Linked DNA regions of Homo sapiens: all the other regions are linked to region 1. The links come from fine-mapping of genetic effects on gene expression. A gene starts in region 1. Each other region holds a variant in brackets. All regions are shown on one strand. Distances are between the middles of the regions.

Region 1 (5,445 bases):
CACCATCTTTAAGAACTGTAAGACTCACCGCAAGTATTCGCAGCTTCATTCTTGAAGTCGGCGAGACCAAGAACCCACCAATTCCGGACACAGAAGGAAGGAAAACAAAGGGGAAAGCAGATTCTCTACAGAATGTGGATTTTTCCCATAAGAGACTTTGCAGGACAATTTCAAGGTAGGGCAAGGAAAGATATTTTTGGGTAAAATATTTTTATTTTCTTCCTTATTATGCCAGAGTCAGATTGGAAAGTAAGTCATGATATACACGGTTAAATAAAACCCATCTGATGTGCATTTATGGTTTGGAGAACATGACTCCCCAAACCCCTTAGATAGGAATTTGAGCAAGATAAAAAAATCAGAGCTTAGTCCTCAGAACCAACCTAATGCATGATCTCCCAACTTGATCTCTATCTTCCCACAAAAGATTGACTTGGAATGACTTATTATTCCTAAAAATCAATCTATTCTTAAAGGCTTATTTGTCTCTGTAGGGTAGTTGTTAAGAGTTAAAGAAAGAAGAGAGAAACACAAAAAGTGGCTCAACAATCAAGGATAGGTTTATTTTAGAGAATAAACCTGAGAGGGGCTTCTGGCCAATTTTGGTCAGGAGCACTCTCTCTTACAGACTAAGAGTATTTAAGGGTTTAGGGTGAGAGAGCTTATCACAGGCTTGGAATATTTCTGCTTGGAGGAGAAGTTTATTACAGGGTTGGAATGTCTCTGGTTGGAGGGGAGGGGTTATCTTGGGGCTGACATCGCTCCGGTCAGAGGGAAGGTTATCTTGGGGCTGACATCGCTCGGTCAGAGGGAAGGTTATCTTGGGGCTGGCATGTGTCTGGTGGGAGAGGGGTTTATCTTAGAGTTAGAATGTTTCTGGTCGGAGGTGTCATTTGTGGTTTGTGGTCATGCTGACAGCCATTAGGCTGATGCCCTCTGGGTTGGATTTAGGTGGTTTTTGATCAAGGGGCACTTTAAAATGGCAGTGCTTCTGCTCTGTCAATAGTAGGATATGCCAACCCAAAATATGGCACTTTGGCATAAAGATTATTTTCGAGTCAAAGGCACTTAAAAAAAAAATGCAAAAAGAGCACTGTGGCTTTCCTTTTTCCTTCCTGAAAGCAGGAGATAAAACTTCCGTATGAAAGGTGCCCTCCCTGTATAAGGAGGAAGGGAGATGTTCTCAACACCAGAGACATGGAGTCAAAGCTGAGCTGTATCTGCACAAACTTACCGATTTTCATTTCCACTTTGTTACAACAACCTTTATCTTCTTAGTCACTTCTGCATTAACTGCACTAACCCAAATCTGTTTGTTTTCTCACATTTTCACAATTTACTACTCTTTTTAGCCTTCCCTAGAAAAATGGAGACTCAAAAGCACTTAGGGTCCAACTGTTAATTTGGGTCTCCATTTTTCTAGGGAAGGCTCCAATGTAAATGTAAAAATTACTAAATAAAATTTGTATGCTTTCCTCCTGTTATGTTTTATGTCTCTATTTTACGTCAGTGGAGACTAAGCTCTGATTTTTTTTTTAATCTTGCTCAAATTCCTATCTAAGGGGCCTAGGGATTCATGCCCTACAATCCATAAATTCTCATCAGATGGGTTTTATTTAACCCTATATATTGTGACTTACTTTCCAATCTGACACTGGCATAACGAGACAAGAAACAAAATCAAAATATTTTACCGCAAAACATTTTTTTTAGTTTTTGACATATCTTGAAACGGCTCTGCAAAGCTGTCCTTTGTTGGGGGAAAATCTGCATCTACATAGAATTTCTATTAACATAGCTAGATCATTTTCTTCCAGGTCCTCCCAATCCTAAAGAGATTACGTAAGAATCTAGCACCTTTTAAAGATCTGAATAGGAAACATTTGTCATCCATTGTCTCTAAGGGCAGCCACTATAAGACTTCAAAAGAACCTTGGTCTCCACAATCTTTTATTTTAACCTCAACATTTCCTTTCTATGGGTCCCAGGTCTTCAACTGTCAACCAGAAAATGTTTAAATTTACCTACAGCCTTGGAAGCCCCTGCTTTGAGTTGTCCCACCTTTCTGAACCAAACCAATGTAGTTCTTAAATTTATTTGATTGATGTCTCATGCCTCCCTAAAATACATAAAACCAAGCTGCGCCCCAACCACCTTGGACACATGTTCTCAGGACCTCCTGAGGGCTCTGTCACGGGCCATGGTCACTCACATTTGGCTCAGAATAAATCTCTTCAAATATTTTAGAGTTTGACTCTTTTCCTCATCAGTTTAATTCTTAGGCCCAGCCAAGACCCCAAGAGGGGAGAGGAAATATTTTCACTTTCCCTACACCAGTGTTAAGAAGCCCAAGAACGCAATTCAGAGGGCTTCCCAAATCATTTTGAAGAATGGTAACATCTCTAGAATATCAATTAGATCGTAGGGGAGTACATAAGTCATGTGTACACCTTTAGGTGTTTGTGAAAACCAAGGCATATAAAATATCACATTATTTGGCCTCAGTACATTCCCATACTGACAAGCACTGTACCATTTTTCCCCCGCTCTAAGCAAGGGCTTCCTGGGGGGAAGAGTCTGTGGTTGGGTGTTCAGAAGCAGAGAGTGCTCTCCCAAAGCTAAACGATGCCGCCAACTACTGTGAAACTTAACTTCCCCTCTCCCGGAATTCTCATGGAAGACAAGGTCTGATCAACCGAGGGCTTAAGAAGTATCAAATTGGAACTCATGGAATCACTGGCGGAGCTGATTTACATATGAGAATTCCTAAGCCTCACAGCATAGAAATTTTCATGCCAGATGGTCCTGAAAAAGTTGTTTTAATTGGCTACCAAAGGTTTACCTTGCAAACACCAAGTTCTTAAAGATTACAAAATCTAATAAAGCCGAAGTGTGAATTAAACTTAACCGCAAGAGGAGTCACCTGCGGTCACCTCGTTTCGCCCACAACAAAGATGTCTGCGCATCGCTTACCGTGGAGCCGTTCCAGTGCGTGGGCCACGCGTCCGCCCTTTTCCGCGTCACATGACCACGAACACTCTTCCGCTACGGCTCCCAGAAGGGGCCAGCCCGCGCCTTTCGCGCTTCTGCCCTGGCCCTCTGCGGGCCGCTCCGCCGGTGCTGTCCCTGGGCGCCTCCGTGCTCTCAGCCAACCACCTCTGAGAGCGCCCACTCGAGCGCCCCGGGAGCCAGAGGGCGGGGGTCCTCGCCGGGACCCTCCTGTGGGCCCAGGGGTGAGTGTTGACGTCTTCCCGACCCGCGACCTGCCGCCCGAGCTGGCTGCCAGGCCTATCGCCGCCGCCGAGACCCTCCGGCCAACAGGGACCCGCGGTGGCCCCGGCCCCCCCGGTAGTGTCTCCCTGACCCGAGTCCCGTCCCCGGGCCTCTTGCCTTCAACCCTGGTCTTTCCTCCTCCCCGGGACCTTGAGTCCCCGAGGAGAGCGAGGGAGAGGAGCGTCTTCTGCAGGTGTTTTTGGGCGAACCTCTTCACCTTGTGTGGTTCGGCGTCTCCTTTTGTGTATTAACCCGGACTTTTCCGACTGGAAAATAGGGGTTTGGGAAGCAGCGGGAGTCCCGTGAGCGTGAACGCCGGGCTTTGCAGGTCTTCACTCATCCTTCCCTGCCAAGGCCCTGACACCTTACAGGCTGACCTTAAACCTGCCTTGTTTAAAAGGAGGTTTTTGTGTTGTTTTGTGGCAAGTACATTTTGGAAAAGAAGGGCCTTGTTGGAAGCCCAGGTTGTGGCATCGCGGGTGGCTGCGGGCCACCCTGTCCGTCTGTGAGCATCCCTGCTCGCAGATGTGGCTGCAGGCAGTTGCTCTCGGGTTTCCTTCCAGGAGCTGGGAAGCCGGAGGAAAGCTGCGGTTCCTGTTCCGCCGAGCTTCTGACCTTCCTCTGCAGGACGTGTGCTACTATTACTATCGTAAAAGAACACCCCTGTCTACCTCCCACAAAGTTAGAAGCAAAGGGCATTCTCGAGGGAAGAGCACCCTTTCAAAAGTGACATGTTTTCATTGGAGAACATTAAAGGGGAAAAAAAAAAAAAAGGTTTCTGGCCCTTCTGCCCAAATATAGAACCATTTGTATTCAGGCCTCTCATCCACCGAGAGACTTAAGATGATCACAAATGTTTTGTCTCCCTGCGTGAAAAACATTTTTTCTGCCTCAATTCCGTTGGCTAATGAGAGCCCAAAAGAAAAACCCTTAGGAAAATTAGGACGATTTAGTTATACTTAGTAGTCTTTTCCCATGCAATTAAATTGCTTGGGGGACCTTCTATCTTTTGGTTTCAAAGGCTTGTATATTGGTTTTGCCATTTTTTCCAAAAGGAAATTGTGTTCTCTCCCTTCCTGTCTGATAGAGCTGCCTCCTTTCAGAATTGCAAAGTTTAGTCTTCGCTCTCCTCTCTTCTGGTATTGAAACTTTTCTGTGGGTTCATAACCTTATTTTAAAGTTCATTAATATATAGTTTTAAAAGTTTGCAGTGACTTTTTAAATATAGTTTCTTTGAAAAAGAACTGAAACAGGGTGTGCAGAGTGGCCCATCTGTGTGAACTAGGTCCACGCAGTAGGTAATAAACAACTGGAGGGTTTTTTTTGGTTTGTTTTTGTTTGTTTGTATGTTTGTTTTTGAAAAGTACATAAACATTTGCAACCACAGTCAGTTTGACTCAAGTTGTTTCGGTGACTTCCGAGGCTTTCTGGGTTCCAGTGTTCTAATACAGAAAATGAGAAAGTTGGGCTGGAATCATTGTGTCCCAAAATTGGTACACTTTCCGCTAGTGGCATGTGACTTGACTCTAGGCGGTACGTGGATGAGGATTTTTTTGTAATAGGATGTTTTTGCAATCTGTATTTATATATGTACAGCCATGGTTTAAGGTAGTGATACAAAATTTTCTTTTACAATACTTTTTTGATTTTAAAAAGTCGAGTTAAAAAAATTAACTGTAGCAAAAAGTTAATGTACTCTGTGAATATGGGAAAAAAAAAACCCATGAAGTTGGCAAGTTAGTTACTGGTGTTTGGGAACCACTGGGCTTAGAAAGTAGAAATATGAAATCATCTGTGATTCTAAGAGAGATTTTGCCTCGTTTGTTATGTAACAGAATCACGTACTGGTTGCCTACTGGATTCTAAGGTACAAAACTTCTGGAATTAACATATCAACACCAAATGAGACGTTTATTTATTGCCAAAAGATATTATCAGAAATGCCACAGTCTAACGAGGGAGAAAAAAAATCAGATTTTGATTGGTTTTAAGCAGAAAACCCAATAATTGGGATAATACAGTGTTAAATCTTAGTAGAAATCCAGTTACTTTTTAAATGTAAGTAGTTCAGCTACAGGAGAACTTGGCTTTTTCCAGAAGTTGGCATTTCAGCATCCACCTTTATTTTCTAAGTCACTAGTTTTTTACAAACTCAGATATTCTCGTAAGAAA
Region 2 (5,445 bases), 42 kb after region 1:
TTAAACTACACAATTTGACTTCTTCGCTTAGAGACTCCACACAGACAGCCAAGGAAACCGATGACTATCTGACTGAGCCCAAACAGGACCTCCAGAATTCCAACAAGCAATAGACCTAAAAATACTGAGAAGTGGATAAGCCTATGTTTGTTTTCTTCAGAATCGAAGTGGAAACTAGATGCTCTCCAGCCACTCGCCATGGTGTCGTTACTGGTGGGTTTATTGAAACCAGTAGGAGGTGCACAAGAGTCATTGAAAAACCACTGCAAGTTGAAGGATTCTGGATGAATGTCACTGAAAAACAAAAGATAAAAATCAGATATTCAGAAATATCCCTGACCAAAGGAAAGTAGCATTGTGCACATAAAAGAATGAGTGAAACGAATGTACTTTTGAAATATCGTGCCCAGAAATGACAGAGATCAGGGTTTCTGAGCATGTGTCCATATACTCTACTAGTTACAAAACTTTTATTACTTATATAGCCCATCATTTAACAAGCATCTCTATGGTACATCTTCTCTTAGGTTGAACGGTATGAAACTGCTGTTTTGGGATGTCAGAAATAGTTGAATGTCAACAGTTTTTCGTGGTTCAACCTATTTATTTTATTTATTCAGATACTCTTCTACTTGCTAGATATAAAAACTAAGGAGCCTCCCCTACCCCCCGCCACCCCCATTAAATGAGCTCAGTTCTTAGTGCAGAACTACAGCGTGGCGTCCGTTCTTCAACCAGATGTACAGTTTTTACTGATTAAATATGTCTGATTAAAGTGATGTGCCTGTTCTTAACGGGGCTGTGGAAAATGAGAAACTTTTAGCCCTAATACATCTATCTCAAGATGATTTTTTGTTTGTTTACTGTAGAGTAAAATGGAATGTTCTTAGGGAGTTTGCATTGCTGGATATCAGCAACTGACATTCAACCTGGGAAAACAACAGTATTTTCAGCACATGGAATATGAGTGTTTTGTGAAATGTGTAGCAAGCCAAGGATCACTCTCTTGTAACTTTGCTAGCCTAGCCCATCTCCGCAACTAGGCTGAGAATATCTGAGCGCTGTTGTCTGCAGAGCGTAGCCTGGTGCCTGGTACATTGTGGGCTGTTGTCATTCCCTGGGGATTTAATGTGCATAGCATCTGTGGTAGAAATCTTTAACCCTTTACTTCAAGTCTATTAGCAAGGAGACTTTCCTTGGCTTTGTTTTTGAGACACAGTCTCACTCTGTCACCCAGACTGGAGTGCAGTGGCTTGATCTTGGCTCACTGCAACCTCCGCCTCCTGGGTTCCAGCAATTCTCCCGCCTCAGCCTCCTGAGTAGCTGGGACTAGAGGCGCGTGCCACCACGCCTGGCTCATTTTTGTATTTTCAGTAGTGATGCAGTTTCACCATGTTGACCAGGCTGATCTCAAACTCCTGACCTCAAGCGATCCACCTGCCTTGGTCTCCCAAAGTGCTGGGATTACAGGCGTGAGCCGCTGTGCCTGGCCTTCCTTGGGTTTTGGTTCAAAACAAATATGCTACACAAAATTTGAGGGACTTTCTTTTTTAATGTAGCAAGGTAAGGGAAAAGGAGAAAAAATTTTTTGTATGTAACTACAAAAGTAAATTCTGGTTATTTGCTAAACTGAGCAGGCTATACAGAGAGGTAATGGATTAGATAGTTTTTTTCTTCCAGTTTTTACAAATTGTGTCTAGATTCAGTCACAGAATGATGTACTTAAAAGACTAAAATGAGCCACTTATTAAGTACATGTAACTCTCCAGTATTACTTGTTATTACATGACTTAAAATTTGGATTCATTCCCATGCATACAGTATATTTATAGCATATCTGTATGAATCCATTGGTTGCTCTTCCATTTAAGCCTACAGGCAAGGCTCTGCATTTTATTTATTGTGTTTTTATTAAATTTTTTAAATTGTAAATGTAATATTTGCTCATGGTTGACAAATTTAATTAGTTCAGAAGTGTAGAAAGTAAATGTTCTCTTCACTCTCATAAAGGGAATCCCCTATTTCCATTCTCCAAGGATGAAAGTTAAGTTTCTGGTGTATATTTGCATAATTTTTTAATATACATACACATATGTAACTGTAGATTTTTGAAAGACAAGCATAAGCCATTTGAGATCAACTAGTCCTTTTAGACAATATCTAAAAGTCCTTTTAGAGCATTGTAAATCTAATGATTCCTCCATTTTGATGTGGAGTTGTGCTAACTGGCGTTAATGTACTAAAATTCCTAAGAATCCGTTTGTCCCGGCAGTTGCATCAAATAAAAACATGGCATTGTTCCAGTACTGCATTAATCTAATCAAACTAGTTCAACTGTGTGAGACAGTAAGCCTGTGAAAATCAAGTTACTTACCTGATGTTTTTCAATGAAAATTCACAATTGGCATTACTGTTGCTTGGAGAATTACACATGAGAGGACCTTTTAAGAGAGCCTGGATGGATATCAGCATGCAATACAGAGCACCAATGACTGTGATCACACTGAAAAGTGATGAAAGAAACATCTGAAAAATAAAATAGAGCCATTTGCACATGTTATGACATGTTCTTGATCTGTTTCAAGCTTCAGGAGCGTATACAGTCTTTTTTAAATCCAGTCGCCCTAAAATCCTGGATCTTAAGATCACAGTTTATTAGGTGTGAATGATACAAAAAGGCAGAGGGCAGTCTCTGCTATTTGATTACACTCAATAAAAGATGGTTGGGGCTGGGCATGGTGGCTCACACCTGTAATCTCAGCACTGTGGGAGGCCAAGGTGGGTGGATCACCTGAGGTCAGGAGTTCAAGACCAGCCTGGCCAACATGGCAAAACCCCCTCTCTACTAAAAATACAAAAA[C/A]TTAGCCAGGCTTGGTGGTGGATGCCTGTGATCCCAGCTACTTGGGAGGCTAAGGCAGGAGAATCGCTTGAACCCGGGAGGCAGTCATCCGAGATCGTGCCATTGCACTCCTGCTGGGTGACAGAGCAAGACTCTGTCAAAAAAAAAAAAAAAAAAAAAAAAAAAAAAAAAAAAAAAAGATGGTTTGGCTTGTCACTGTCTCTGGAAAATCTCAACTTTCATATTCCTGAGTCTCATCTGTTTCTTCTGACCACTGAGATCTAGTTCCTCCCTGTTTTATGTACTTCCTACTTCATAGAATCTTGACTGGATCTTAACTACGTTTATCTTCATGTCTGGTCTCTTGGCTCGCAAGCGTTTGGCCCTGATGCTTTAAGTGAATTTGGCCCTGATGCTTTAAGTGGCCAGTGGCCAGCATCCCACAGTGATCAGTCAACAGCATAGAGTTAGAACAGGACTTCCCAACCTCAGCACCAATGACATTTGCACACTTCGCTGTGGGGCCTTTCCTGTGCAGTGTAGGATATTTAGCAACATCACTCATCTCTACCCACTAGATGCCAATATCATCCCCCGACGCCTTGCCACCTCCAGCCCGGTTCTGACAACCAAAAATGTCTCCAGGCATTGCCAAATATCCTCTTGGGGTGGAGGTGGGTGGGTAAAATAACCCGCCGGTTGAGAGCCACTGTGTTAGAAAGATTGTACACATCTTTATTTCGTGAGTCAGTCATGAGAGCAGAAGAAGGCATGGAATTTGGCATAGGAAACTGAATGAAAGTTCGTGTTTGTTTTTCCAAAAATAAGCTCTTAGGCCAGGCACAGTGGCTCATGCCTGTAGTCCCAGCACTTTGGGAGGCCAAGGAGGGTAGATTGCTTGAGCCCAGGAGTTCGAGACTAGCCTGGGCAACGTAGTAAGAGCCCATCTCTAAAAGAAAAAAAAAAGAAGGAAACTTTTGTATTGTTTCAGTGAAGTTGTTAGTCACTGATGATTATTTCAAAATCAGCAGAAATGAAGCGAGGGAATGCTTTTCCTTTTTCTTTGCTGGGATAATGCAGCTCCCACAGGGTCTGTGTGTTGTGTTCTTGAGACCTGCCTTTTATGAGTGCAGAATAAGGTGGCTACCTATAGAGTTGTGTTGAGGGATGTTGTGCTCTACATATATCATCTCATTTAATTCTTTTCATAATCCCAAGAGGTAGATACTATTATTATTTCCATTTTATAGATGAGAAAACTGTGTATCATGGAGATGGACAAAACTTGTCAGGCTCTCACAGCTGGGAAACACTTTAATCACTATTCTTCTTCCAGCCAAAAGTTCAGAATGATGGATTTGGAGTCTACTTCAAATCCTGATTCTTCCATGCTACTGTGACTTGTGCAGTTACTTAAATGTACTCATCAAGAAGTGCCATGGTGTTTATTTTTAACCATCTATTTTTTTTTTTTTTTTTTTTTGGAGACGGAGTCTCGCTGTGTCGCCCAGGCTGGAGTGCAGTGGCATGATCTCGGCTCACTGCAAGCTCCGCCTCCCGGGTTCACGCCATTCTCCTGCCTCAGCCTCCTGAGTAGCTGGGACTACAGGCACCCGCCACCACGCCCGGCTAATTTTTTGTATTTTTAGTAGAGATGGGGTTTCACCCTGTTAACCAGGATGGTCTCCATCTCCTGACCTTGTGATCCGCCCGCCTCAGCCTCCCAAAGTGCTGGGATTACAGGCGTGAGCCACCACGCCTGGCCGCCATCTATTATTTATATATATATATATATATAATTTTTTGTTTTTGAGACGGAGCCTTTCTTTGTTTCCCAGGATAGAGTGCAGTGGCGCTATCTGGGCTCACTGTAACCTCTGCCTCCTGGGTTCAAGAAATTCTCCTGCCTCAGCCTCCCAAGTAGCTGGGATTACAGATGCCCGCCACTACACCTGGCTAATTTTTTTATTTTTATTTTTTGTATTTTTAGTAGAGACAGGGTTTCACCATATTGGCCAGGCTGGTTTCAAACTCCTGAACTCAAGTGATCCGCCCACCTCAGCCTCCCAAAGTGCTGGGATTGCAGGCGTGAGCCACCGCACCCAGCCATATTATCTTTGAGTTCTCATCCCTACAAAAGGCCTGGCTTTAGAAAGTGATTCCAGGCATGTGTATTTCCCCTAAAGGGGATTCACTTAAATGATTCAGCAAAACCATTTTGTATTCAGAAGCAAAAATAAGAACTGGAAAAAGGGAAGAAGCAAAGAACAGTTAAAATAGGGGACAAGCCTTGGTCAACCCTTTCCCTTCCTCCCAAGATGTTGCCTTTGCCACTTGTCTCATGTTTTGGTCTTATCTAGGCCTCAAAGACACCAGATACGACATAAAAACCAGTTCTTAGAGGATACACCTATCGGAAAAGCCTATATAAGTGTTTTGATATTTTTGATTTCAGGAATTCAGAAATGTCTCAGGATGTCAAGAATGTTGTGAACACCACATAGAAAAGATACAAAGTCAAATTCCAAATTATTATCGTTTACAAAGAAAAGTGACAGGGAAGGGAAACTGAAAATTAGTGTTTATTGAATACCTAAAATGTATTC
Region 3 (5,445 bases), 43 kb before region 1:
CTTTGTAACTCTAGGTATTGACTCTCTGGAAGAAGACTGTTGACTGTGGGAACCAGAACTAGCCCAAGAGCTCCTTGAAAGTGGAGATTTACAATTTCACAATTGAATCTAATGAATCCCATGAACTAACTGCAAATTAAATATTGGTCAAATTAGGGTATGAAGGAACTCCCTGAATGCAGCCTTGCTTCACCGTGGCTTCCTCTTCTGAACCAGAGATCACAGAAAGTGTGTTGACCCCTTTCTCAAGTCACCTACTATAAATGCATAAGAAGTTAATCCCTTGCATGCAATGGATGCTATAGGGCATTAAGACTTAATTCTCTTAAGCAACCCCTGTTGAGAAAGGCTACCTGGGGTGCTGAAAACGTTCTATATCTTTTTTTTTTTTTTTGAGACAAAGTTTCGCTTTTGTTGCCCAGGCTGGAGTGTAATTGGCACTATCTCAGCTCAACACAACCTCTGCCTCCTGGGTTCAAGCGATTCTCCTGCCTCAGCCTCCCGAGTAGCTGGGATTACAGACATGTGCCACCATGCCTGGCTAGTTTTTTTGTTGTTGTTTTTTTTGTTGTTGTTGTTTTTGTATTTTTAGTAGAGATGGGGTTTCTCCATCTCCATGTTGGTCAGGCTGGTCTCGAACTCCCAGTCTCAAGTGATCCACCCACCTTGGCCTCCCAAAGTGCTGGGATTATAGGTGTGAGCCATCATGCCCAGCCAAAAGCTTTGTATCTTAATCTAGGTCATGCTTACATGAATATATCCATATATAAAAATCCACTTACCTGTACACTGTATGTAAAAAATACTTCAAAAACAAAGTCAAATGGTCAACCAGCATCAGTGGTTTGAAGAATTGCTGAATCAAAATCATGGCCCTACTAAACAACAAAATAGAGAAAGTTATTTTTTCAAATAGGAACCAATGTAATTTGATTTGGAACTTTTAAAAAATTGCTAATTTATCAGTTGGTTTTATTATCATTTAAATTTTCATAAAAGCATCTCTAGCTGGTTGAGAGATAAGAGAGTTACTGCTCAGAATATTTCAATAAGACTAATCCTACAACAATGTTTATTGTTTTTTCTCTGTAGGAGACCAAGGTTTTCCAGGTACAAAAGGATCACTGGGTTGTCCTGGAAAAATGGGAGAGCCTGGGTTACCTGGAAAGCCAGGCCTCCCAGGAGCCAAGGTATGCAAAAATTCAAGCTATCACAGAAGAGAGGGTGGGTGACCATTAACTGGCCAGTTTGTATGCACTTATCTGGCAGAGCACTCTAGATGTAGAAATGATCAATATATTTGTAGATGATGAAGATATTAAATTTTTTAAATGTTTCTCTGGATCATCTTCCATTTTAGAAAGGAAAACATAAGGTGTCAGAATGCAGATTTCATCGTGATATCATCTTTAATGGTTTCATAAATAATCAGAGTATTTAAAATGGGACAACTCTAGAAAGAAATGTGGTTAGCTATAAGAAAAACTATCAAAAGTAAAAACATCTAGATTTTTCTCTTTATAGACAATCCCACAGTCTTCTGAAAAAGTGGAGGCTACATATCCTGAAGTATTATTAAACATAATCTTACAGAAAAGTCAGCAACTAGAGCTCAAAAAGGAAAGTTGATGACATGGTAGTGGCTGTGCAACAGGGACTTAGAGCCTCCATAACAGAGAGTCAATATCAGTGAAGATTTGGAAGCACTATATAGTAATAACACAATTTCTATGCTGTAGGGAGAACCAGCAGTAGCCATGCCTGGAGGACCAGGAACACCAGGTTTTCCAGGAGAAAGAGGCAATTCTGGGGAACATGGAGAAATTGGACTCCCTGGACTTCCAGGTCTCCCTGGAACTCCAGGAAATGAAGGGCTTGATGGACCACGAGGTACAATAGCAAGTGTCATTACTTTTCTCCACTGTGAGCTCTGCTAAAATGCAGCAAACTGAATGTGAAGGTGTTCTAGGCATGAAGAATTCTCCCATCCAATGTTCCTGCCCTACCTTTCTTCCTTCTTTCCTTCTTCCTTCCTTCTTTTTTAATGAGTGCCCTCTAGAAAAGGCATATTAATGGCAGTAAATATAGATCTGATTTAGGTGGAAAAAAAGTTAACAGAAGAATGACTGGTACAGCAATACCAAGACCTTAAGTTCTAGCACCTGGGTATATACTTGTGCTTTCTTTTGCAGGAGATCCAGGGCAGCCTGGACCACCTGGAGAACAAGGACCCCCAGGAAGGTGCATAGAGGGTCCCAGGGGAGCCCAAGGACTTCCAGGCTTAAATGGATTGAAAGGGCAACAAGGTAGGAGGAGGGCCTCAAAACTGGCCACCAGAAGGGCAGGAGACATGAGACTCCTGCTCTGTGCTTTGCTGCTTAACATGGGAACTGTCCAGCCACAAGTCCTGACCACTGTTCAATGAGAAATACTTCAGAAGTGTAAACCTTGCTGTTATGGGTTTGTTGCACACAGTAGTGTGTACCACCTATAAAGGAAGAAACTTGAAGTTAATATAGTGAGTTGCTTTGTGTCTTTTATGCAAGAAAAATATGAATGCTGAAGACAGAGATTGGTGTGTGTTTACATATATTTATATACATATTAAATTCTCAGAAAACATTTTACCTTTAATATTTTCATAAATATATTAAAGTGGTAAGTTTATCCTTATTATTAAAATAGGGTAAATGTATGCAATGATACCAGTTTAAAAACTTATAAACTAAAATATGTAGTTGATTGTTTTACATACAATATAAAAGAAAAAACATGAAAATAAATCTAAATGATGCAGGCTAGATGTTCCAGATGATGGAAAACTTTGTTTTTGGATCCTCTCCTCATCAGATCTGATGAACTGTTCCTGGAAAAATGTATTTAGAAATCAGTTAATGTCTGTGGTCTATCATACTGCTTATATGTTCACAAATAAATTTTTGACCAAGACCTTAACTGTTACAGTGGCATTATTATTTTTTCCAGAGGCATCCAGTGGCTTACCTCTATGCGAACGGCTCTGTATGTCTTCTGCAGGAAACAGAGTGAGCAGCACTCATAAGGTGCAGTCCCAGAATGTGTCTGCAGGACTAGAAAATAGATATAAAGACTACACTTGTATTACTGCATAAATCATTGGAGCAGAGAATGTTAGAGCCAGAAGGGAGCTCAGAAATTTTACAGAGGGGACATTAAATACATACACACACACATGCGCAC[G/A]CATGCGTAAGTGTGCAGTTACCCCAAATCACAAAGCTAAATATTTACAGCCATAAAATATTTCTAAAGTGGCCGGGTGCAGTGGCTCATGCCTGTAATCCCAGCACTATGGGAGGCCGAGGTGGGCGGATCATTTGAGGTCAGGAGTTTGAGACCAGCCTGGCCAACATGGCAAAACCCCATCTCTATTAAAAATACAAAACTTAGCTATGCATTATGGTGCACGCCTGTAGTCCCAGCTATTTGGGAGGCTGACGCAGGAGAATCACTTGAACCAGGGAGGCGGAGGGTACAGTGAGCCGAAATCGCCCCACTGCAATCCAGCCTAGAAGACAGAGGGAGATTCCATCTTAAAAATATATATATATATATATATATATATTTCTGAAGTTAGTAGGGGAAAGCATTTGTGGGTTAATTAATTCATTCATTTATTCGTACACAGGCAGAAGAGGTAAAACGGGGCCAAAGGGAGACCCAGGAATTCCAGGCTTGGATAGATCAGGATTTCCTGGAGAAACTGGATCACCAGGAATTCCAGGTCATCAAGGTGAAATGGGACCACTGGGTCAAAGAGGATATCCAGGAAATCCGGGAATTTTAGGGCCACCAGGTATCCTTTTGTGTGTTTCTATTTTTCTTCTTATTTCTTCTTCTTCTTAAGGTGGCTCTGTCAACTGTACATAGGCATACGCTTTTTACTCTATGCTTTTACTTAATATAAGGTTTTCCTTCTAAATTATTTGTAAGAAACCAGGGGCCATGGTGCAGGGAAACGGTGGCGGCAGGATGAACAATTACCCAGAATGTGGCTATTTTTGCTGTGTAATCCTTTTTATATACGACTACTATAATATACTTGCTAGTATTTTGTTGAGAATTTTTGCATTTATATTGAGAAGGGATATTGGTCTGTAGCGTTCTTGTGATGTCTTTGGTGTTGGTGTCAGAGTAATGCTGGTCTGATGGAACAAGCTGGGAAGTGTTTCCTCCTCTTGTATTTTCTGGAACAGTTTGTGAAGAATCGACGCTCTTTAAACATTTGGTAGAATTCACCAGTGAAGTTATCTGGGTCTGGGCATTTCTTTTTGGGAAGTCTCTAAATGACTAATTCAATCTCTTCATTTCTTATAGGTATATTCAGGTTTTCTATTTCTTCTGGAGTCAGTTTTGGTATTCTGTTTCTCTAGAAACTTGTCCATTTTTATAAGTTATCTGATTTGTTGTTGTTGTTCATCATATTTCTGTATAATTGTTTTAATTTCATGGCTATGTTTATTGTTTATATGTTTGGGGAGAATATTCTGTTCCCTCATGGCATAAGGACCTCACCGATCTCCCCTCTGGAAAAGAGCCTAAAACAACTTAATCGACACATTATCCTTTCATTCATGTTATTGGGCTACTATCACATGCCAGCATTCTTCTAGGCCCTAGAGACACATCAGTCAGTGGACAAGTCTCCCCTTCTCATAGTAGAGGATCAATAATAGAAATATTTAAAATCTAAGTTCAATTTGAGACAAGTGTTATGAAGAAAATAAAGTGAAGGGATAGAATAGAAAGTGACTGGTCAGGGGCTGGGAGGATGGAATGCTCCAAAACTTCCACATATGCTATCCTCATCCATGAATATGATTTGCTACCAATCACTTCCACATAGGTGAGTTTAAAAGACCACTTACCGACCCATCTCCTAGACTAATACAGTAATTGTACTATGTACAGAGGCCATTTTTTCAACTCCCAATCTCTGCTTCTAAGTATAATTTATTTTAGTATATGGAATATTTTGCTTTTCTCACTCTGTACAACACGTGCTGCTTTGTGTTAATTTGTTTCCATAGGTGAAGATGGAGTGATTGGGATGATGGGCTTTCCTGGAGCCATTGGCCCTCCAGGGCCCCCTGGGAACCCAGGCACACCAGGGCAGAGGGGTAAGTGATAGAGTGTCTTTCTAAATAGCAGGAAGCATAAACAATGTTCATTTATTTTGCAGCAAAAAAAGTTATGTTTCATTGGAGGGAAAAATAGTTCTGAGAGAGCAACAGTATTTGATTTTGCTGTTTTCTATGTTCCTTTTCTCCATTTGAATGGAATCCTGTTTTCTGTAGGCTTACACCACTACCCTTATGAGGCTGCCTGCCTGGGGAAACTATTTATCAAGTTCTCAGCACTGTTAGCCTTTTTTGTTTGATTTGTTCTGTTTTATAGTAAGCACTGCCA
Region 4 (5,445 bases), 53 kb before region 1:
GTCTACGAGTCCTATGCACTTATGGATATAAAAAATGTATCATTAATTTACATTAAACTTTGGCAAATATTATCTTCTGGTAGATTTATAGGTGATTTTTAGTCTCTTCTTTCTGCATAATTTTCTTATAATGAGCATATATTACTTTTAAAAGTAATATATACTCAGAAAAAATAAAGATATATTCTTAAAATTATGAAGATAAAATTTTAAGAAGCTAAGATCTGAGTTACTTTTTACATGATCTCTTGTTCTGTTATTTACTCCCATTCTCTTATTGCATTTATGTTTTATGATAGAAGTTGTCTTTCTTTCCCCACAAGGAAACACTCTATTTTCTTCATACATTGTATTACCCTGTCTACTTAGAGTTGGCGTTCAATGAGGAGTTAGTTAATAATTCGTTGATTTGCAGGAAGACAAGGCGCAGCTGGCTTGAAAGGAAGCCCAGGGTCCCCAGGAAATACAGGTCTTCCAGGATTTCCAGTAAGATTTCATGTTTTTAAATCTTTAGCTTCAATTTGACAAATTGCACACTCTAGAAATATGGTTGCAACACACTTACCAGTTTGGTGCCTTGCAAACAGTAGGCACTTAATAGATACCTGTTGATTAAATGAATAAATCTGTGACTGATTAAGTGAATGAGTCAATGAATTTATAAACAGTTTGAAATGGTATCAGAAACAGAAAGCAGATTAGTGGTTGCCTAGGGCTGAGAGTGGGAACAGAGGTTCATTGCAAATAGGTTTGAGGGAATTTGGGAGAGTGATGGAGATGTTTGAACGTGATTGTGGTGATTGTGGCATAATTCTATAAATTTACTAAAAATCATTGAATTGTACTCTTATAAAGGAGAAATTTTATGGTATGTAAATTATACCTCAATAAGTCCGTTAAAAATTAGAATCTTGACTGTCATAGTGAATCAAAAAGTTATAGATAAATATACTTAGATCAAACTATTCAAAGAGGCTTGTTAAAATTTACCAATATTCAAACATAACCTGTATTATGGTGATTGTTCTATGGTATTAAATTATATTATTGTCTGTATTGCTTTGAATTATACTATCTAACTGAATTATTTTTCAGTTTTGGAAGTTAACAACAAAGCAAAACAAACAAAATGCTTGTAATAATAGTTGTGGACCAAAGAGTGTGTTGAAAAAATTCATGTTAAAATTGAAAAGTTCTTGTCCACACTGTTTTTAAGATTGACAGAAGAAGAATTCTAACAAAATACAATACAGATTCATTTGTGTACTACCCTAGGGTTTCCCAGGTGCCCAGGGTGACCCAGGACTTAAAGGAGAAAAAGGTGAAACACTTCAGCCTGAGGGGCAAGTGGGTGTCCCAGGTGACCCGGGGCTCAGAGGCCAACCTGGGAGAAAGGGCTTGGATGGAATTCCTGGAACTCCGGGAGTGAAAGGATTACCAGGACCTAAAGGCGAACTGGTTGGTATTTAGCAACTTTACCCTCCCTATAAATGAAGTACTCTGAAGTTAAGAGATAAAGTGATTTCTTTTCCAAAAATGGTTGGCCGCTCAGCACAGTTCATCACTCTAACTGCAGAATGAAACATCTTCAAATTAGCAGGAATAACCCAAGCAAATAGTTATAGTATTTTGACAGAATAAATAGGTAGCATTCAGTGATTTCAACCAATCAAAATTCTACATTGATAATGACCCCATCTCATACACAAATTACAGTTCCATATTTGTATCAAATGAGTCTATGGAAAAGTTCAGAAAATGATGTATAGTAGAAAGTTTAGTAAATATTTTGGGGCGATGTCCATATTTTTAAATAAAAATAAATGCATAAGAAGACAGCATATTTAGGGGTATGGTAGTCAAATAAAGAGATTAAATGTTTTGTCATTCATTTAATTTTATGGAAATTTAATCCCTTTTCATGAGAGAGTTTCTCACATATTTAATTGAGGTAATACCTACCAAGATTTTTTTTTTTTTTTTTTTTTTTTTTTTGAGAGGGAGTTTTGCTCTTGTTGCCCAGGCTGGAGTGCAATGGTGCAATCTCAGCTCACTGCAACCTCCATCTCCTGGGTTCAAGTGATTCTCCCACCTCAGCCTCCTGAGTAGCTGGGATTACAGGCATGTGCCACCACACCCAGCTAATTTTGTATTTTCAGTAGAGACGGGGTTTCACCATGTTGGCCAGGCTGGTCTCGAACTCCTGACCTCAGGTGATCCACCCACCTTAGCCTCCCAAAGTGCTGGGATTACAGGTGTGAGCTACTGCACCCAGACCTAAGATTTATTTTAAAATGTCACAGAGTGAGAGGGTGAGCACCTGTCATCATAATGTATTTACAAGAGGTTTGCAAGGGATGCTGCCCAAACTATTCTATGAAATACCAGTTTCTCCCAGGGCTAATCTGTGTTAGCCAATAAAACAGATCTTACCTCAAAGAGGTTTGGAGAAACTTGGTAAACAAATTTAAAGATTCATTTACAGACCCTTTAATATCAGAATATGAACTGTGAGTCTTCCACATGAAGATAAGCTATCTGGTCTTTCCTAAATGCTTCTGACTACAAAACCCTTTTTGGCTGGCAGCATCTATGGTGCCAGCAGTTCTCAGACCCTGCCTTGGCCAAGTCCCAGGTTGTTCACTTTGTGGTAGTTATGCTTATAAAGTGACAGTGCCAGAATTCTGATGGTCTAATATTAAGAGAATTTGTATGATGTCCCTACTTGCATCTCACTGATTTTTCTTTATAAGTTCTGGTAAAGATGCTCCATAAAGTAAATGAGAGAAAAATCAAGGTGGTGATTTGTTGAGTCTTACACCCTGTCATTAAAAAAGGAGACAGACCACTTAGCCATCTGATGATATTGAACAATGAAAAATTGAGTCAAATTTATTTCAGAGGGCCATGTTGGGAAGGAAGAGGGCTTAAATTATTTTGTCAAATTCAATTTCTTTTAAATCTACAAATCATTTTCAAGGTTATAGCATATGAAGATTTAAAAACTAGACAGTTTATGAGAGAAAATGGAAGTGGGAAATCCCCTTTGTCATGAAAATACCTGGTGAAACCAGAAATAAAGGTTTGCTGTGCTCATTTTATTTCAGAAATGTAACATTATCATGAATATCACCACTAAAGTCATT[T/A]GAACTATTGGTCAATTTGAACATAGTTTTAGTGGCTATTACCATATGGGAGACCCATCATTGTAAGATATCTCAAGTGGGACTCAAGACAGTTCCAAGTTCAAAAAATGTTGCTAAACTCCAAAGGACACAAAACGGAAGAAACCTGCAGTGCTCTTACTTTAGTAATAATTCTCATCAAATGCCAAATGCTTTTAATTCAAGATCTCAATGACAGCCTAACTGGTATTCATATTTGGAGGATGATTAACCTGTTGTAAGAATATACTGGAATGAAGCACGATTCAAACACATTCCTGTTGTCACAGGCTCTGAGTGGTGAGAAAGGGGACCAAGGTCCTCCAGGGGATCCTGGCTCCCCTGGGTCCCCAGGACCTGCAGGACCAGCTGGACCACCTGGCTACGGACCCCAAGGAGAACCTGGTCTCCAGGGCACGCAAGGAGTTCCTGGAGCCCCCGGACCACCCGGAGAAGCCGGTTGGTTAGTTTTCTTTCCAGTCCTGTTTTCCGATGGAGTGGGTTGATGGTTTCTAGAGCTAACGAAGCTTCTCCAAGACTAAGGAAAATATAGAAACTTGCTTCTAACGAATAGAATATGTCAACTCACAGATACCAGGAAAGAATATGTAGGGTATGTTAGAGAAAACTCATTTTTTCTCCATTACTGGGCAATTCAACTGAAATTTCCTAGAATATTCTATATCTATTACATACATACATATATATATATGAAATGAATAGATCCTAAGCGTTATTGCAAATTTGTTTTTTGTGGTTTTCTAGAGACAGGGTCTCACTGTGTTGCCCAGGCTGGAGTGCAGTGGCATAATTATAGTTTACTGCATCCTCAAACTTCTGGGCTTAATAGATCCTCCTGCCTGGTCTCCTGAGTAGCTGGGGCTACAGGCACGTGTCACCACGACCAGCTAATATATATTTTATTTTTATTTTTTGTAGAGACAGGATGTTGCTGTGTTGTCCAGGCTGGTCTCCTACTCCCAACCCCAAACAATCCTTGCTTCAGCCTCCCAAAGTGCTAGGATTACAGGCGTGAGCCACTGTGCGCAGCCACAAATTTGTTGATTTTGATCCATAACTCCATAGGCAGGTTACAAATAAAACTTTAAAATATCTAAGACAAATGAAGGAAAATGGTCTGATAATAGTTTAAAAGTCCAGGTAACTTTTGGGATATACATATACTGGCCGTAGTTCTGGATTCAGGAGTGTGGCTGAAGGTCAGAATAGCATGCTACTGATAGTTTTGAGCAAATAATGCCAACATGGTCATGTTTTACTTCTAAAATCACCTTAGGCTGGGCACAGTGACTCACACCTGTAATCTCAGCACTTTGGGAGGCCAAGGTGGGCAGATCACTTGAGGTCAGGAGTTCAAGACCAGCCGGGTCAACATAGCGAACCCCCATCTCTACTAAAAATACAAAAATTAGCTGAGCATGGTGGCACATACCCACAGTCCCAGCTACTTGGAAGGCTGAGGTAGGAGAATCGCTTGAACCTGGAAGGTGGAGGTTGCAGTGAGCCAAGATCGTGCTACTGCACTCCAGCCTGGGCAACAGATTGAGATACTGTCTCAAAAATAAATAAATAAATAAATAAATAAATAAATAAATTTTAAAAATCACTTTAAAGGGTAAGACCCAGTAAACCTCTAAATCATTTTGTAGTGTCTTCCCTCATCAGTAAAACTTTTTGAGTGCACAACCTTACATTATATGTTATAAATGTATGCATCATTTCTGTCCACACATGTATGTAAATCTTATTTTATGACTTTCTCTATATATTAAATAAACAAATAAATATTTATGTTTATCTGCACCTTACTTTGGAGCTGCTTTTTTTTTTTTTGTCTGAGATGGAATCTTGCTCTGTCGCCCAGGCTGGAGAGCAATGGCGCAATCTTGGCTCACTGCAACCTCCGCCTCCCAAATTCAAGTTACTCTCCTGTCTCATCCTCCCAAGTAGCTGGGATTGCAGGCACCTGCCACCATGCCAGGCGAATTTTTATATTTTTAGTAGAGATGGGGTTTCACCATGTTGGCCAGGCTGGTCTTGAACTCCTGACCTCAGGTGATCCACCTGCCTCGGCCTCCCAAAGTGCTAGGATTACAGGCATGAGCCACCATGCCTGGCCGAAGGAGGCTGCTGTTCTAATCCAGGTACTAGCAAACGGTGGTGGACCACAGTCCAAGACCAGCCCACTGCCTGATTTTGTATGATCCTCAAGCTAAGAATGGTTTTCACATTTTCAAATGATTGAAAAAAATGTTTAATG

Direction of the effects. Positions count from the first base shown, and alleles are read on the strand shown. Sizes are in standard deviations (SD) of each study's normalised expression. Not every link is listed here.
For the expression in monocytes after R848 of the gene that starts at base 3,057 in region 1, allele A in region 2 goes with a lower level than allele C (moderate effect, 0.64 SD a copy in Quach 2016).

The links. PIP is the estimated chance that this variant, and not a neighbour inherited with it, causes the effect.
Region 2: its variant is the best candidate, but not a certain one, in a credible set for the expression of MFF in monocytes after R848 (Quach 2016, PIP 0.79).
Region 3: its variant is the best candidate, but not a certain one, in a credible set for the expression of MFF in whole blood (INTERVAL, PIP 0.73).
Region 4: its variant is the best candidate, but not a certain one, in a credible set for the expression of MFF in whole blood (INTERVAL, PIP 0.78).

What each region holds. Positions count from the first base shown.
Region 1 is chr2:227,322,195-227,327,639 of GRCh38, forward strand. MFF (mitochondrial fission factor) reads left to right here and starts at 3,057. Exons shown (of 9, transcript NM_001277062.2): 1 at 3,057-3,233. It overlaps MFF-DT (MFF divergent transcript), which reads right to left and starts at 2,970. Exons shown (of 14, transcript NR_102371.1): 1 at 2,924-2,970. RefSeq lists an enhancer at 2,879-2,928 and a silencer at 3,109-3,398.
Region 2 is chr2:227,363,719-227,369,163 of GRCh38, forward strand. It overlaps TM4SF20 (transmembrane 4 L six family member 20), which reads right to left. Exons shown (of 4, transcript NM_024795.4): 3 at 2,375-2,526; 4 at 1-294. The coding sequence ends at 6. Among named protein-coding and RNA genes, the nearest start is that of TM4SF20, 13 kb to the right of the region's middle. The variant C/A (reference allele first, on the strand shown) is at 2,861.
Region 3 is chr2:227,278,701-227,284,145 of GRCh38, forward strand. COL4A3 (collagen type IV alpha 3 chain) reads left to right here. Exons shown (of 52, transcript NM_000091.5): 29 at 1,093-1,190; 30 at 1,740-1,890; 31 at 2,193-2,306; 32 at 3,665-3,832; 33 at 5,067-5,156. MFF-DT (MFF divergent transcript) reads right to left here. Exons shown (of 14, transcript NR_102371.1): 3 at 3,004-3,089; 4 at 783-875. Among named protein-coding and RNA genes, the nearest start is that of MFF-DT, 44 kb to the right of the region's middle. The variant G/A (reference allele first, on the strand shown) is at 3,220.
Region 4 is chr2:227,269,495-227,274,939 of GRCh38, forward strand. It overlaps COL4A3 (collagen type IV alpha 3 chain), which reads left to right. Exons shown (of 52, transcript NM_000091.5): 24 at 416-486; 25 at 1,276-1,458; 26 at 3,455-3,623. All of the region lies in intron 4 of MFF-DT (MFF divergent transcript), which reads right to left. Among named protein-coding and RNA genes, the nearest start is that of MFF-DT, 53 kb to the right of the region's middle. The variant T/A (reference allele first, on the strand shown) is at 3,147.